Linked DNA regions of Homo sapiens. The protein of the gene in region 1 interacts with the protein of each later gene in a biochemical or structural test. Each region holds a gene or a part of one and is shown on either strand. Other genes may lie near its edges.

Region 1 (7,528 bases):
GCTGGTTTAGCTCTGCTCCACCTGTCCCCTCCAATCACAGTGACTAGGGACCGAACCGTCACTCACGGAGGTGGTCTAGCTTCTGGCTGTGTGGTGTGGCCGAAGATGGGGAAGAAGGGAGAGAGTCGAAGGTCACGTCGCTCATGTTCTCGTCTCCAGAGTTCTCTGAAAGGGGACGGAGCAGGGGTGGCCGGCTCCCAGAGAGGGTCCTTACTTGGGGGCTCCCACATTTTTCCTCTGTTCCTCTCAAGATGGTCTTGGCTGATTGCTAGGGACATTAATAGGGATACTCATGTCACGCACACACCCTCTGGGAATTAAAGGGCTCTTCCTGTTGTTCCCTCTAACCCTGAAACCCCTTCATCCACAGCTCCTAAACATGCCTGTTTAGGAGCTGATATATTGTCTTAAAAAATAAAAAATCAGTCAGGGATTAAACCTAAGGCCTCCAAGAAAGGGCATCTGGAACAGAGGCTCAGAGGACCTGCCAGTATCCCCTAAAGCACTGACCACATTCCACAGCCCAGAGCTGGAGAAAGCATTCCACTCTATGTCCAGCATCCCAAGCTGGTCTTTGCAACATTCTCTTGTCCCTGGTCCAAGTAGCAATGGGAGGATGGGAGGTATGTTGGTGAGGTGCCTGGAGAGCCAGGTCTAAGACTAGTTCAGTCATTTGTCAATACATCACACAAACACACACACACACCACATGCCTTCTCACTATCTCCACGTGCCTGTTCCCCTCACTCTGGTAAAAAATGGGCCCAACCTAAGCAGATACCAGCTGCTCGATTGGAAGGACGCTCAGGAGGGCTTTGTGCACTGAGCTGGAGGGGACGGGCTGGGGCATGGATGGGACAGATGCTTCCAGCCCTGGTATTCATCAGTTAAGCACTGCTTGACCTGGCTGTCACCACACAGGGGAGCAGGGCTTGCTTTGCAAGTAGCAGAAGGGCCTGCCAGGCCAAGCAGGGTCACACTGGGCACCCACCAGCAGCTTGGTGTTCTGATTCACTGCATCCCTCTCCCGGGGCGAGAGGTCAAAGGGAGCAAGGCCCATGCTCTCGCAAATCCGGTTGCAGGCATGAGAGTAGAAGAAGAGCGCCATCCCGCGGACACCTGTGGACAGAGCGGGGGTGTCTGGAGTGTTGCTTTGCTCTGTGACGGGGGACAGGCAGTGGTGGGCCTCATACATATGGCCAGGGCAGGTATAAAACGTGCCAAGCTGGGAGGCATCAGACATCCAGGCTCCCATCTCCATGATCTTGAAAAAGCGCGTACAGTGTCTCAGCCTGTTTCCTTGGCTGTACGAAGAACTCAGAGGTTTTAGCAGGGAGCGTGGTTTCTGCAGAAACAGGCTGGCTTTCCCCACGTACCTAGGTTGCCGTCTCCAAAGTCAGTGCCCGTCTCCGTGTGGATCTGTGGGTCAGTGTAGAGATCCCCAACTCCCTGGATGTCCACCACTATCAGCTGATGGCCGGAACGCTCAAAAGTGAAGTGGCTGAAGGCCTACAGGGGACAGGAAGGAAAACGAGATGTCAAGAGACAGGCTGAGGTCTGTGCAGGCACTGGCCACGCCTCTGCCCATGCTGAGGGGCTTTCTCTTCAAGGAGTTATATAGAGGAAAAGACAAAGGAAAAAGGCCTCTTCAGTTGGGCAGGGACCTTGGGCTGCAGGTCCTGTGGCCACCTTAGGTGACAGAAGCTGTCATGGGGTGACGGGTCTCCTTCTGAATGCTCCAAGAGGCTTCTCTGGGGGTGAGACTCCAAGCCCACAGGGACCTTCCTCTTTAGGGGCTGAGCCTGGCCAGGATCTCACCCCAAGGGCTGTGGTGGGCAGAGGGTGGAGGTGAGCTCGGCCTCACCTGCGGCGTCAGGCGGATGTTGTCATCGCGGACAAAGCCAGAGTTGGAGTTGTACTTGATGTACTTGCCCTCGATGTAGTGCTCCAGGTGGAAGAGGGGCTTGCCCGGTCTGTCCTTCAGCTCGATGATGCACATCTGCATGATGTCCACCTGGTGGGATGGGGAGTGGGCTCAGGCGGGAGGGCCCAGGCGCACCTCCTCTGAGAAGCGGCAAGGGGAGGGCTCAGAGGAACTCGCCTGCCTGGGCTCAGACCCTGGCTCCATGACTTACTAGCTCTCTATTGTAGGAGCTCCTGATGATGCCCAGAATCTAATCTCCTCTTTTCCTTTAATTTTTTTAAAATTAAAAAAAATATATTTTTAGGCTGGGCACGGTGGCTTACATCTGTAATCCCAGCACTTTGGGAGGCTGAGGCAGGTGAATCAGTTGAGGTTAGGAGTTCGAGACCAGCCTGGCCAACATGGTGAAATCCTGCCTCTACTAAAAATACAAAAATTAAGGCTGGGCATGGTGGCTCACACCTGTAATCCCAGCCCTTTGGGAGGCCAAGGTGTGTGGATCACCTGAGGCCAGGAGTTGGAGACCAACCGTGGCCAACATGGTGAAACCCTGTCTCTACCAAAAATACAAAATTAGCCAGGCATGGTGGCACATGCCTGTAATCCCAGCTACTCTGGAGGCTGAGGCAGGAGAATCACTTGAACCTGGGAGGCAGAGGTTGCAGTGAGCCAAGATTGCACCACTGCACTCCAGCCCTGAGCAACAAGAGCAAAACTCCGTCTCAAAAAAAAAATTAATAAAATAAAAATACAAAAATTAGCTGGGCGTGCTTGTGCGTACCAAAAATCCCAGCTACTCAGGGTGTCGAGGCAGGAGTATCACTTTAACCCAGGAGGCAGAGGTTGCAGTGAGCCAAGATCATGTCACTGCACTCCAGCCTGGATGACAGAGTGAGACTCCGTCTTAAAAAAAAAAAAATTTATTTTAGAGACAGGGTCTCACTCTGTCGCCCAGGCTGGAGTGCAGTGTCATAATCATGGCTCATTACAGCCTCATACTTCTGGGCTCAAGTGATCCTCCCACCTCAGCCTCCCGAGAAGCTAGGACTACAGGCGTGTGTCACTACACATGGCTCATATCTAAATTTTTTTATAGAGACGAGGTCTCACTATGTTGCCTAGGCTGGTCTTGAACTGGCCTCAAGAACTGGCCTCAAGCAATCCTCTTGTCTTCCAGCATCCTCCCAGAGCATTAGGATGACAAGCTGCAGCCACTGTGCTCAGCTCTGTTTTCCTTTGAGTTTTAAAAGGGTACACAGCCACCCACTAGGGATGACATTGCTAAGCTTCCCTTGCAGCTAAGTGTGGCCACATGACTGTGCCCAGCCAATGGGAAGTGAGCATTGCAATGATGTAACTCCAGCCTGCCCTGTAAGGTGGACTCTGCTTGGGAGCCAGAATTGATTATGTGGTCCATGGCAAACCCCTGAGGGGATGGCAGAGAAAAAAGACCAAAGGAACGAGTTCTCTAGATGGCTTCAAGGAGATGAGGCACAAACAAGCCTACCCCAAGCCACCCACCAATGCAAGACCTCCACACAAGTGAAAAAGAAACCATTTCGTGTCCACACATATTTTGTGGGTCTGTTTGCTAAGCAACTTAGACTATGCCTTACAGTAAAACTGTGAATTTGGGAACATTTCTGAATTTCACCTCTCTGTGCCTCAGTTTCTTTACCTGCATAAAGAGGGTCTCAGGCTCAGTCTGTGAATTAAACTTATTGATGCAAAAAGGAGCCAGGCAATGTTTGCTTTCATTTTATTTTATATTTTATTGCCCAGGCTGTTGCCCAGGCTGGACTGCAGTGGCACGATCTTGGCTCACTGCAACCTCTGCCTCCCAGGTTCAAGCAATTCCTCTGCCTCAGCCTCTTGAGTAGCTGGGACTACAGGCACCCGCCTCCATGCCTGCCTAATTTTTGTATTTTTAGTAGAGATGGGTTTTACCATGTTGGCCAGGCTGGTCTTGAACTCCTGACCTCAAGTGATCCGCCCCCCCACCCCGGGCTTTCCAAAGTGCTGAGATTACAAGCATGAGCCACTGTGCCTGGCAACTCATTTTTATCAGGAGCTACAATTCTAGAGAAATATAAACCAACCTCTAAACAGCAGTTTTCTCCCTGCAATGGGAAATTATAGGGAACTTTGACATTCCTTGCCGAATTTTTTTTGTTTTTATAAAGTCTATGTTTAATTTTGTACACAGAAGAAAATGTATAAATAGTGCATATGGTTTGTAAAGTGGAGTAGGGGAGATTAGGGACTCTAGCTTGCACCTCTTGCCCTGTTACACAAGGACTCATCCTTGGTTCCCATGTCCTCCTCAATGCCACCTCCTGGGAGGATTAGGTCCAGGTTTCCCAAGGAAACGACCATCCATGGAGAGTGGGTCACCAGACATGCAGACAACAGATGCAGAGGCCGAAGGGGTCCTGATCTGAGAGGTGAGAACTTGCCCCAAACAAGGCTTCAATGGGTTCTGAGAACCGGCCTGAGGGGAAGGCAGGGAGCGGCGGTTCTCAGAGGGTTCTGCCCAAAGGCTGGTCCCATCCCTACAAGGAAACTTACAGCAGGGCCACCTGCTGGGCCAGAGGGCTCCCTGGGCGAGGGGCAGTGGTACAGCCACAGTGGACAACCAGCACCTTCTCAAACAACCACGTCTCTCTCCCTCCCTTAAGTCAACCACATTATTATTATTATTATTATTATTGTTACTACTACTACTACTACTACTATTTGGGGATGGAGTCTTGCTCTGTCACCCAGGCCGGAGTGCAGTAGCCCAATCTCGGCTCACTGCAGCCTCCGCCTCTCGTGTTCAAGTGATTCTCCTGCCTCAGCCTCCCAAGTAGCTGGGATTACAGGCGTGCACCACCATGCCCAGCTAATTTTGTATTTTTAGTAGAGGCGGGGGTTTCACCATGTTGGCCAGGCTGGTCTCGAACTCCTGACCTCAGGTGATCCGCCCACTTCAGCCTCCCAAAGTGCTGGGATTACAGGCATGAGCCACTGTGCCAGGCCTACCACAGTATTATTTACTGGACACCTAGGCACTAGGAGACAGCAGTGAACATGATAAAATAAAATCTCTGCCTTTAGGGGAGAGAAGCACCTAAAATATTAACTAAATGAATGACATACTAACTGCTCCAAAGAACAGGAAAAAAAAAAAAAGTTAGAATGATGTGACAGAGGTGACTGGGGCAGAGGGACCACTTCTTAGGGTTGTCTGAGATGGGCTGGCTGAGGAGGTGACACAGGATCTGAGACCTGAACTATAAGAAGTAGCTAGCCATGCAAGAATTACGGTGACACAAGATGCCCGCCAAGCCCACAGCCAGGGCCAAGGTTTTGGGGCAGGAACAAGCTTGTGGAGGAAGAGAAAGGAGGCCAGGCTGGAAGGCCGCAAATTGCAGAGGAAGCCACAGCCCCCCAGGGTGGGGACTGTGGCTTCTTGCGCCTGCCTCAAGTATGCTTCATCAAGGGCTCTGCAAACAGCAGGTGCTCAATAAATTCTGCACACCCAGGAGACTGTGCGTTGTATGTAGTAGATGCTCAAGCTGTGGAAGATCTCAGCTGTGGGCTCATGCAGGGCAGAGGCATGGATCCTTCCTCAAATGCCGAAAGGCAACAGGGAATTCTGCTTGGCCTCAGTCACTCATCACCCTAGGGGCTCAAATGAAGGTGCCAACCTAGCAGGGGGTTGAAAAGCCTGCATTTGAGACCTGGCTACAGCTCTGCCTGGTTGGGGAAGTCATTTAGCCTCTTTGAGCCCAGGGTTTCCCAAAGAGCAGACATAGTATCCACTATGATATGGTTTGGCTGTGTCCCCACTCAAAGCTCATCTTGAATTGTAGCTCCCATAATTCCCACGTGTTGTGGGAGGGACCTGGTAGGAGATAATTGAATCATGGGGGTGGTTTCCCCCATACTGTTCTCATGATAGTGAATAAGTCTCACGAGATCTGATGGTTTTATAAGGGGAAACCCCCTTTGCTTGGTCCTCAATCTCTCTTGTCTGCCACCAGGTAAGATGTGCCTTTTGCCTTCTGCCATGATTGTGAGGCCTCCCCAGCCACATGGAACTATCTGTCCATTAAACCTCTTTTTCTTTTATAAATTACCCAGTCTTGGGTATGTCTTTATCAGAAGTGTGAAAACGGACTAATATACATTCCCAGCTCTTTCTTCCGCTTTTTCTTGGGAATCTCACCTTTTCCAGTCTCAGTCCCTGTGGTCTGGGTGGAACACCTACATTCCTAGCTCTAAGGGCAGGCACATGGCTAGGGTGTGCCCAATCTGCATATTCCTGCCCCTTGGCCACTGTGATTGGCTCGGCAATAGGGATCTGACTTAATCAGAGCCAATGAAACGCAGCTCTGGGACTTTTATTGGAACTTCTGGGGAAATAGGTTTTGTCATTCCAACAAGAACTTGGGCCTGCTGGGGGCCAGAGTGCTACCACTAGTGCAGAGGCTGCCTGAGAATGACGCCAACCCAGAAGAACACCCAGGCCAGAGATGGAGGAAGATTCTGACAACCTCAGTTTAATCCTGCATCCAGCCGTGCCTGTGGCAGCATTATTTTTCAGTTACATAAGGCAATGAATTCCCTTTTCGGATTAAGCAGTTTGAGTGGGTTTCTGTCATTTGCAAACAAAAATCCTGACTAATAGATCCCATCTGTAATTGAGGATAAAAACATTCCGACCTCAGAGCTCTGTTTTTAGGAATAAATGACTCTGGAACAAGTGCAATGGCTCACGCCTGTAATCCCAGCCCTTTGGGAGGCCGAGGTGGATGGATTGCTTGAGGCCAGGAGTTTGAAACCAGCCTGGGCAACATGGCAAAACCCTTTCTCTACAGAAAATACAAAAATTAGCTAGGCATGGTGGCATACCCCTGTAGTCCCAGCTACTCAGGAGGCCAAGCTGGGAGGATTGTTCAAGCCCAGGAGGTTGAGGCTGCAGTGAGCTGTAATTATGCCACTGCACTCTGGCCTGGGCAACCAAGAAAGATCCTGTCTCAAAAAAAATAAAAATAAAATAAATGACTTGGTTCATCATGCTCAGTAAACAGTGGTTGTTATTAGCTACTATTAAGAAGGTGAAAGAGGCCAGGTATGGTGGCTCACACCTGTAATCCCAGCACTTTGGGAGGCCAAGGCAGGCAGATCACTTGAGGTCAGGAGTTCGAGACCAGCCTGGCCAACATGGTGAAACCACATCTCTACTAAAAATACAAAAATTAGCCAGATGTGGTGGCAGGCACCTGTATGTAATCCCAGCTACTGGGGTGGCTGAGGCAGGAGAATCGCTTGAACCTGGGAGATGGAGGTTGCAGTGAGCCAAGATCATGCCACTGCACTCCAGCCTTGGTGGTGGGTGACAGAGCAAGACTTCATCTCAAAAAAAAAAAAAAAGAAGGTGAAATAGGGATTCACCATGGCCCTCTTTCCCAGACACTGTGCCCAGCTGCCCTGGCATGGAAAGGGGGCAGGTAGTGGGGCCACGCACCTGCTTGGGGGGCTTGTGCCGATTATACTCCTCCCCCCAGAGCTTGGCCTCCATCTGTAGACGCACGTCCTCAAAGTACACATCCCGGT
Region 2 (7,586 bases), on another chromosome or scaffold:
AGTAGAGATGGGGTTTCGTCATGTTGGCCAGGCTGGTCTCCAACTCCTGACCTCAAGTGATTCACGCACCTCCGCCTCCCAAAGTGCTGGGACTACAGGCGTGAGCCATTGCGCCTGTTCTTACTACACAGACTCACCAGGCCTCCCTGAACCCATTTGTTTAATCATCTAAAAGACAAAATCCACTTTTTTTTTTTTTTTTTTTGAGACAGAGTCTTGGTCTGTTGCCCAGGCTAGAGTGCAATGGTGCCATCTCAGCTCACTGCAACCTCCACCTCCCGGGTTCCAGCAATTCTCCTGCCTCAGTCTCTCGAGTAGCTGGAACTACAGGTGTCTGCCACCATGCCCAGCTAATTTTTGTATTTTTAGTAGAGATGGGGTTTCATCATATTGGCCAGGCTGGTCTCGAACTCCTGACCTCATGATCTGCCCGCCTTGGCCTCCCATAGTGCTGGGATTACAGGCGTGAGCCACCACGTTTTTTGTTTTTTTTTTTTTTTTTTGAGATGGAGTCTCGCTCTGTCGCCCAGGCTGGAGTGCAGTGGCGCGATCTCGGCTCACTGCAAGCTCCGCCTCCCAGGTTCACGCCATTCTCCTGCCTCAGCCTCCCGAGTAGCTGGGACTACAGGCGCCTGCCACCATGCCCGGTTAATTTTTTGTATTTTTAGTAGAGACGGGGTTTCACCATGTTAGCCAGGATGGTCTTGATCTCCTGACCCCATGATCTGCCCGCCTCGGCCTCCCAAAGTGCTGGGATTACAGGCGTGACCCACCGCGCCCGGCCTTTTTTTTTTTTTTTTTTTTTGAGACGGAGTCTCTCTCTGTCACCCAGGCTGGAGTGCAGTGGCACAATCTCAGCTCGCTGCAACCTCCACCTCCTAGGTTCAAGCGATTCTCGTGCCTCAGCCTCCCGAGTAGCTGGGATTACAGGCACGTGCCACCACACCCAGCTAATTTTTTTGTATTTTTAGTAGAGACAAGGTTTCGCCATGTTGGCCAGGATGGTCTCAATCTCCTGAGCTCATGATCCGCCTGCCTCTGCCTCCCAAAGTGCTGGGATTACAGGCATAAACCACCGTGCCCGGCCCGTTTTCCCAAATCTGAAATGCATCTAGACAACGGTTGCAGGACCGGGCTCCTTCCCGATTAAACCACTACTTGAGTCGGATTTGGCTGCACCTTTACTAGCTCTGTGAACGTGGGCAAATGACTTAACTTATCTGAGTCTCCATTTTCTCAGGCGTAAAGGAGGCCACCCGAAGCCCAGGGTGTGGGTAGGTTAGCTGAAGTATTTGATTTAAAGGACCGTGAGGTCAGGTCCTAGTAAACGCTCAATAAACTGTTAAAAGACAGTGTTGGCCGGGCGCGGTGGCTCACGCCTGTAATCCCAGCGCTTTAGGAGGCCAAGGCGGGCAGATCACGAGGTCAGGGGTTCAAGACCAGCCCGGCCAACATGGTGAAACCCCTGTCTCTACTAAAAACACAAAAAAATTACCCGGGTGTGGTGGCAGGCGCCTGTAATCCCAGCTAATCGGGAGGCTGAGGCAGGTGAATCGCTTGAATCGGGTGGCGGAGGCTGCAGTGAGCTGAGACCGCACCACTGCACTCCAGCGTGGCAACAGAGCGAGACTTGGTCTTAAAAAAAAAAAAAAAAAAAAAAAAAAAGGCAGTGTCGAGAGGCCTGCACTGGCGACTGTCGGTCAGCAGGGGCCGCTACTGCGGTCTCTGAGCTCTCCTGGCGCCGCAGCAGGCGCATGCGCAGCGGAGCTTCTCTGCAGAGGTGAATTTTTTTATTGGTCCCCACCCTAAAAGACCCAGCGTATATTTATTATTGTACTTATTACAGCTGACCTGGTTGTGGCTGCTTGTGGTACTCCAGGATTCTGCTCTTCATGGATGTGGGGATGACAGTGGGAGAGATCCTTCCCTGCCAACACCTGGCTCCATCCCTGCAGTTATGGGGTTGAAAATTCCCCTTTTTCCCTTAAGCTCTCCCCCTAGTTCTTTAAATTACATGATGTTAGAATTTTTCAATAAGCAACCCATGCACTTGAGAAGAAATTCAACCCCTCTTTTATTAAGTTCCGGGATACCTGTGAACAGCCCCCCCTCCTTTTTTTTTTTTTTTTTTTTTGAGACAGAGTCTTACTCTCAGTCGCACAGGCTGGAGTGCATGCAGTGCCGTGATCTCGGCTCACTGCAACCTCTGCCTCTCGGGTTCAAGCGGTTCTCCTGCCTCAGCCTCCAAAGTAGCTGGGATTTCAGGCGTTCACTACCACGCCGGGCTAATTTTTTTATTTTTAGTAAAGACGGGGTTTCTCCATATTGGGTAGGCTGGTCTCGAACTCCTGACTTCAGGTGATTTGCCTGCCTCGGCCTCCCAAAGTGCTGGGATTACAGGCGTGATCCACCGCAAGCAGCCTAACCCCTCTTTAATTTTTAAAATTTTTAAAAATTTTTTTGAGACGGAATCTCGCTCTGTCGCCAGGCTGGAGAGCAGTGGCGCGATCTCGGCTAACTGCAACCTCCGCCTCTCGCCTGACACCTCTTTTAATGAAAACCTTTCCATTACATCTCTGAAATGCTCCCACTTTGCACGGAAAAAACGGCTGCGAAGCCCCCAATAGGAAACGCAACACGTAGCAGGTGCTCAGTGCATTTAAAAATTTTGAAGAATTTTATTATTAATAATGCGAAACTGACTACCCCTCTGCTAAAAACTCATGCCCCAAATGGCGCATGCGCTTGACTTGCAACTTAACTAAACGCGTCACAGGTACAGGTGTAGGTGGTTAGGGACCCCGGGCGCTCCCATCTGCTCCCTGCCGCGCCCTCTGCCTTTCAGAGCCTCAATCCTTTCGGAAGATACTTTTCAGTTTTCCACTGGGTTAAATGGTGATAGGAAGAGCAATCATCCGTTAAATGAAACCCAAGGTTGAGACAGCGCTTTGTAAAGCAAAGTGCCCGAAGCATTCGTGAGGGGGAGGAGTGTACAGGTTTATTTTAGAGTCCAGGCTGGAATTTGCATTGCTTTTTGTGGATCCACACCTCCCCCTCTCCCAGCCCAGGAAAAGCACTGCAGTGGCTCTCCTGTTTCACAAAGTGAGTTTAAGGAAAGATGTACCGCAGGGGGTTCATTTGCACTGTGAGAACATCATTCATGCAAGAAATGCTGAGTACCTACTATGTGCTAAACAGCGGGTTGGGCTTTTCATAAGGGATAGAGTTACACAATTGAATGCCAATTCATGAGATATGAAATACATTCAACTGTTTCTTAGGGTCAGATTAGGACACAAATGCTAAACAGTCTTCCTGCGCCTCCCCCTGGAGAGGAAATGAAATAGAAAATGAAATTGTGCCAGTAAACCGCTTAGCCGGGTGCCTGGGACATGGCAAACCAGTCCTGAAATAAATAACTGTTTTATTAATAGCAATCTTAGCTAATTAAAATAGATAGCGTTTATTGAGCGTTGGGTATCAGGCACGGTCCTAATTCTTTTAGATGTCTTTAGTTCGTTTCACTCTCCCCCAAACAATAGGGTGGTATTGATCACCTCCGAGCAGGTGAAATTGAGGCACAGAGAAATCCTAGTAGCTGGTAGAAGAACACGCAGTGTGGTCAAGCTAGCAAGGTGTTTGGTCCACTGCTATATCTACAAAACCCCTAACAATGCCTGGTGTATAGATGCTCAGTATGCATTTGTGGGATCAGTGATTCCGATGCCTGCTTCTTATAAAGTTTTTATTTAGAAATAATTACAGGTAAGGAGTTGCAAAAACAGTATAGTGGTCGCGAGTGTCCTTTTTCCCTCGGCTTCTCCCAGGGGTATCGTCTTACGTAACAATGTCCAAACAGGGAAATTGACTTGGGTATAATCCACAGACTCTATTCACCTTGTAAATTGGTTTTAATAGAAGTACTGGACAACTTGTAAGCTAATATCGTTGCTATGGTTCTCGTTCTCAGCTAAAACGGCGCTCTTTACTTTGTGCACCTGAACACTGCACACCGAGGGCGACCACCGCCCCCGAGATGCCCAGCTTCTATTCTAGAGCGCCGCGCCGGCGCCGAATGGGTTAACGGGCGGGGGGACACGCCTCCGTGCGCTTGCGCGGCGTCCCTTCGCCCCGCCTTCGCAGCGCAGTCACATGACCCGCCCAACCGGCGTCCGCCTATAAAAAGCTGAGTGTTGACGTCAGCGTTCTCTTCCGCCGTCGTCGCCGCCATCCTCGGCGCGACTCGCTTCTTTCGGTTCTACCTGGGAGAATCCACCGCCATCCGCCACCATGGTGAGTAACCCTGCCTCGCTGGTGCCCCGGAGCGGCGGCGGGGCCTCCGCGGGGCCTACGCTGCCTAGCCTGGGACGCTGGGGCCCCCCGTGCCAGGAGGAGACGTAGCGGCGGCGGGGCCGGAGGACCCGGGGCTGGGGAAGCGGCCGCCGCCATGTCTGTGCGCCGCGCTGTTCACCGAGCCCTTTCTCCGTTTCCGAGGGCGCCATAACCTTGCCCAGACCTGGTTGGAGCTGGGTTGTTAGCGGGGATGGGGGTGGGGAATGATGATGTGGCAGGCGTAGTAATGGCGGGCACCGCGGTGGAAGCGGGGAGACAGGGAGGCGCCTTATGTAACCCGCGGGCCGCGAGTTTGAGATCGATTTTCTGCCGGGGGACTAGGGGCGGCAGGGAATGGCAGAACGAGCAAAGCGACACCTGAAAGGCTCCCCTTTTCCTTCCAAATACCTTCTCCTGATGCTGTTAATCGTCGACCTTAGGCACTTGTCCTTCCTATGACTCCCAGATGTACAAAGACTCTTATTGAGACACGAGGTGTAGGCTTGTGGCAGTTAGGGCCGTTCCGGCTCCCCGTTATTTCCTGGGGTGGGTGGCCTTGTCTGATCCCGTTTGCCAAGGGGTGACCTTGCATTTTATGATGAAGCTTCTTGCTCGGGGAAGTTTGGGTGGCCCGGTGACAACGTGGAGGGGGCTTTAGGAGAGGATTCATCCCTTACGTGTTTGGCCCCAAATGAGACTTTAGTATTTGTACCTGGTATCAAGGAAATCTGTTGACACTCAGTTTTATTCCTGAGCACTTTTATTTCTGGGTTGTCAATCATGAATGACACCTATTAACGGTGGTTCCTTGGAGATTGCGGGGTGGCTCTTAAGGGGTGTTAGGCTGGCAAGATTCGGTGGGCTTGGGGCACCCCAGCACCAACCCCCTCCTGGCCTTGGGCATGCTGGTTCGTTTGGACTGAACGCTCCGTGCCATGCTGTGTTCCTGGAAATCACGAGCTGGTCTGAGCCTCCTTGTCTTGCCCAGGTGAACTTCACGGTAGACCAGATCCGCGCCATCATGGACAAGAAGGCCAACATCCGCAACATGTCTGTCATCGCCCACGTGGACCATGGCAAGTCCACGCTGACAGACTCCCTGGTGTGCAAGGCGGGCATCATCGCCTCGGCCCGGGCCGGGGAGACACGCTTCACTGATACCCGGAAGGACGAGCAGGAGCGTTGCATCACCATCAAGTCAACGTGAGCTCCCTGTGCCCTCTGTACCCAGGCAGGGAGGTGCTGGCCTGGCAGCTGGAGGCCACTGGGCCAGGGTGCGCGGGGAGAGACTTGGCAACGTCTCTTTCCCCTGGTTTCTTAATTCATGGGAGAATGAGTGAGGTTCAGTCCAGCGAGACAGGATGGAGAGGCACAGGGATTCGGGGTACTGCGAGCTGGAAGGTTTTCTTGAGGAGGGGGCTTAACTCCGTGGTTCTCCCTCCCTGGGGGACTTGCCCCCACTCCTACAATATCTGGAGAGGTTTGGCTGTCACACCTGGGAGGGGAGGGTGTTCTAGTGCTTGGGACGCTGGGAAGCTCCTGTGTTGCACTGGATGATGTTCATTCCATGTCAGTTTCTGGCCCCGATATGAGTAGGGGGAGCGCAGAGTACGGTGACCCCAACTGCTTTTTGTCCTGGGTTGGTACATTGGTGAGGGACTCTGGCTAAGGCTCTTCATTTCCCCTGGAGCAGGGGCAGAAGTGAGGAGGGGAGGGTCGGAGTCTCTGGAGGCTTTTGCCGTCCTGCTGGGTCTTTTAGTTGCTACTTTGAGTCAGGTGTGATGAATCTTGGGACCAAGTCGGTGGGGCAGGATGTCTGGTCAGGAGGGCTCTGAGGATCTGGCTATGGGGCTGGTACCAGGAGTTCCCTGTCATGGGGGTGGCATGTCTCGGACAGAGGCAAAGGACAAGGGTGGGTTGGCTCTTGTGGGAGCCTCTCCAGGGATGAGTCATGGAGGGAGGAGCAGCCTGGCTTCTGACAGCATCCCAGACTCCCTGGGCCAGGTGTGTGGCTCCTGTCCCCCTGACGAGTCCCTCCCTCCATCAGTGCCATCTCCCTCTTCTACGAGCTCTCGGAGAATGACTTGAACTTCATCAAGCAGAGCAAGGACGGTGCCGGCTTCCTCATCAACCTCATTGACTCCCCCGGGCATGTCGACTTCTCCTCGGAGGTGACTGCTGCCCTCCGAGTCACCGATGGCGCATTGGTGGTGGTGGACTGCGTGTCAGGTAAGCAGTGGGTCCCCCTGAGGCACGGCCTGGAACCGGGGGCCATCCTTGCTTGAGGATGACAGCGCCGCCCTGTCCCCCGTGTCCCCAGGCGTGTGCGTGCAGACGGAGACAGTGCTGCGGCAGGCCATTGCCGAGCGCATCAAGCCTGTGCTGATGATGAACAAGATGGACCGCGCCCTGCTGGAGCTGCAGCTGGAGCCCGAGGAGCTCTACCAGACTTTCCAGCGCATCGTGGAGAACGTGAACGTCATCATCTCCACCTACGGCGAGGGCGAGAGCGGCCCCATGGGCAACATCATGGTACGGCCCTCCCTAGCTGGGTGGTGGGCTTGCCGCAGCGGGATCTGCAGGAGCCGGTGGGGAGTGGAGTTGAGCTGAGGGGGACTGGAAGTGTGTTTTTGCCAGGAATGTTGGGTGACAGAGAAGGGGGCTGGAATGTTTTCATCCGACTTGACCCAGCCCTTGATCTTTGGGCAGCTGGAAGAGACGAGCTCAGGGAACGCTGCCCTGGGTGGTGGAGGGGCTGGCCCCCCTATTCGTGATGACTGATCATTTCTTCACTTTGACCAGATGTCTACTGAAGAAAGCCTGCGTCTGAGGCCCATGCCCAAGGCGCCCAGCCCGTAGCTTCAGGCTCTGCGCAGGGGCCCTCACGGCTGCTTCTCGTTTCTCACACTTCCAGATCGATCCTGTCCTCGGTACCGTGGGCTTTGGGTCTGGCCTCCACGGGTGGGCCTTCACCCTGAAGCAGTTTGCCGAGATGTATGTGGCCAAGTTCGCCGCCAAGGGGGAGGGCCAGTTGGGGCCTGCCGAGCGGGCCAAGAAAGTAGAGGACATGATGAAGAAGCTGTGGGGTGACAGGTGAGCCCCGCGGGATATGGTGGGGGATTCCTGACACCTGGGGGTAGTGGCAGCGACGTAGGGGCGTGGTGTGCTATTCACAGCGTGGCTCAAGCCCACCAGGTCTTGCCCAAGCATGTCCCCTTGGCGACCACCCTCCCCAAGTCATCCCCTGGAGACCC

Evidence for each region. Proteins that work in one complex are often made in the same cells at the same time.
Region 2: of the proteins of EEF2K (region 1) and EEF2, one has a biochemical effect on the other in vitro, tested with the Homo sapiens proteins (one study listed by BioGRID).

Annotation. Positions count from the first base shown.
Region 1 is NC_000016.10:22,251,234-22,258,761, reverse strand, and holds part of EEF2K (eukaryotic elongation factor 2 kinase), read right to left. Parts: coding exon 7,440-7,528; intron 2,015-7,439; coding exon 1,865-2,014; intron 1,510-1,864; coding exon 1,377-1,509; intron 1,120-1,376; coding exon 992-1,119; intron 269-991; coding exon 67-268; intron 1-66. UniProt on the Homo sapiens protein: Threonine kinase that regulates protein synthesis by controlling the rate of peptide chain elongation.
Region 2 is NC_000019.10:3,982,085-3,989,670, reverse strand, and holds the start of EEF2 (elongation factor 2), read left to right. Parts: upstream 1-4,207; 5' UTR 4,208-4,290; coding exon 4,291-4,293; intron 4,294-5,320; coding exon 5,321-5,535; intron 5,536-6,379; coding exon 6,380-6,561; intron 6,562-6,652; coding exon 6,653-6,864; intron 6,865-7,098; exon of another isoform or gene 7,099-7,164; intron 7,165-7,246; coding exon 7,247-7,425; intron 7,426-7,586. UniProt on the Homo sapiens protein: Catalyzes the GTP-dependent ribosomal translocation step during translation elongation.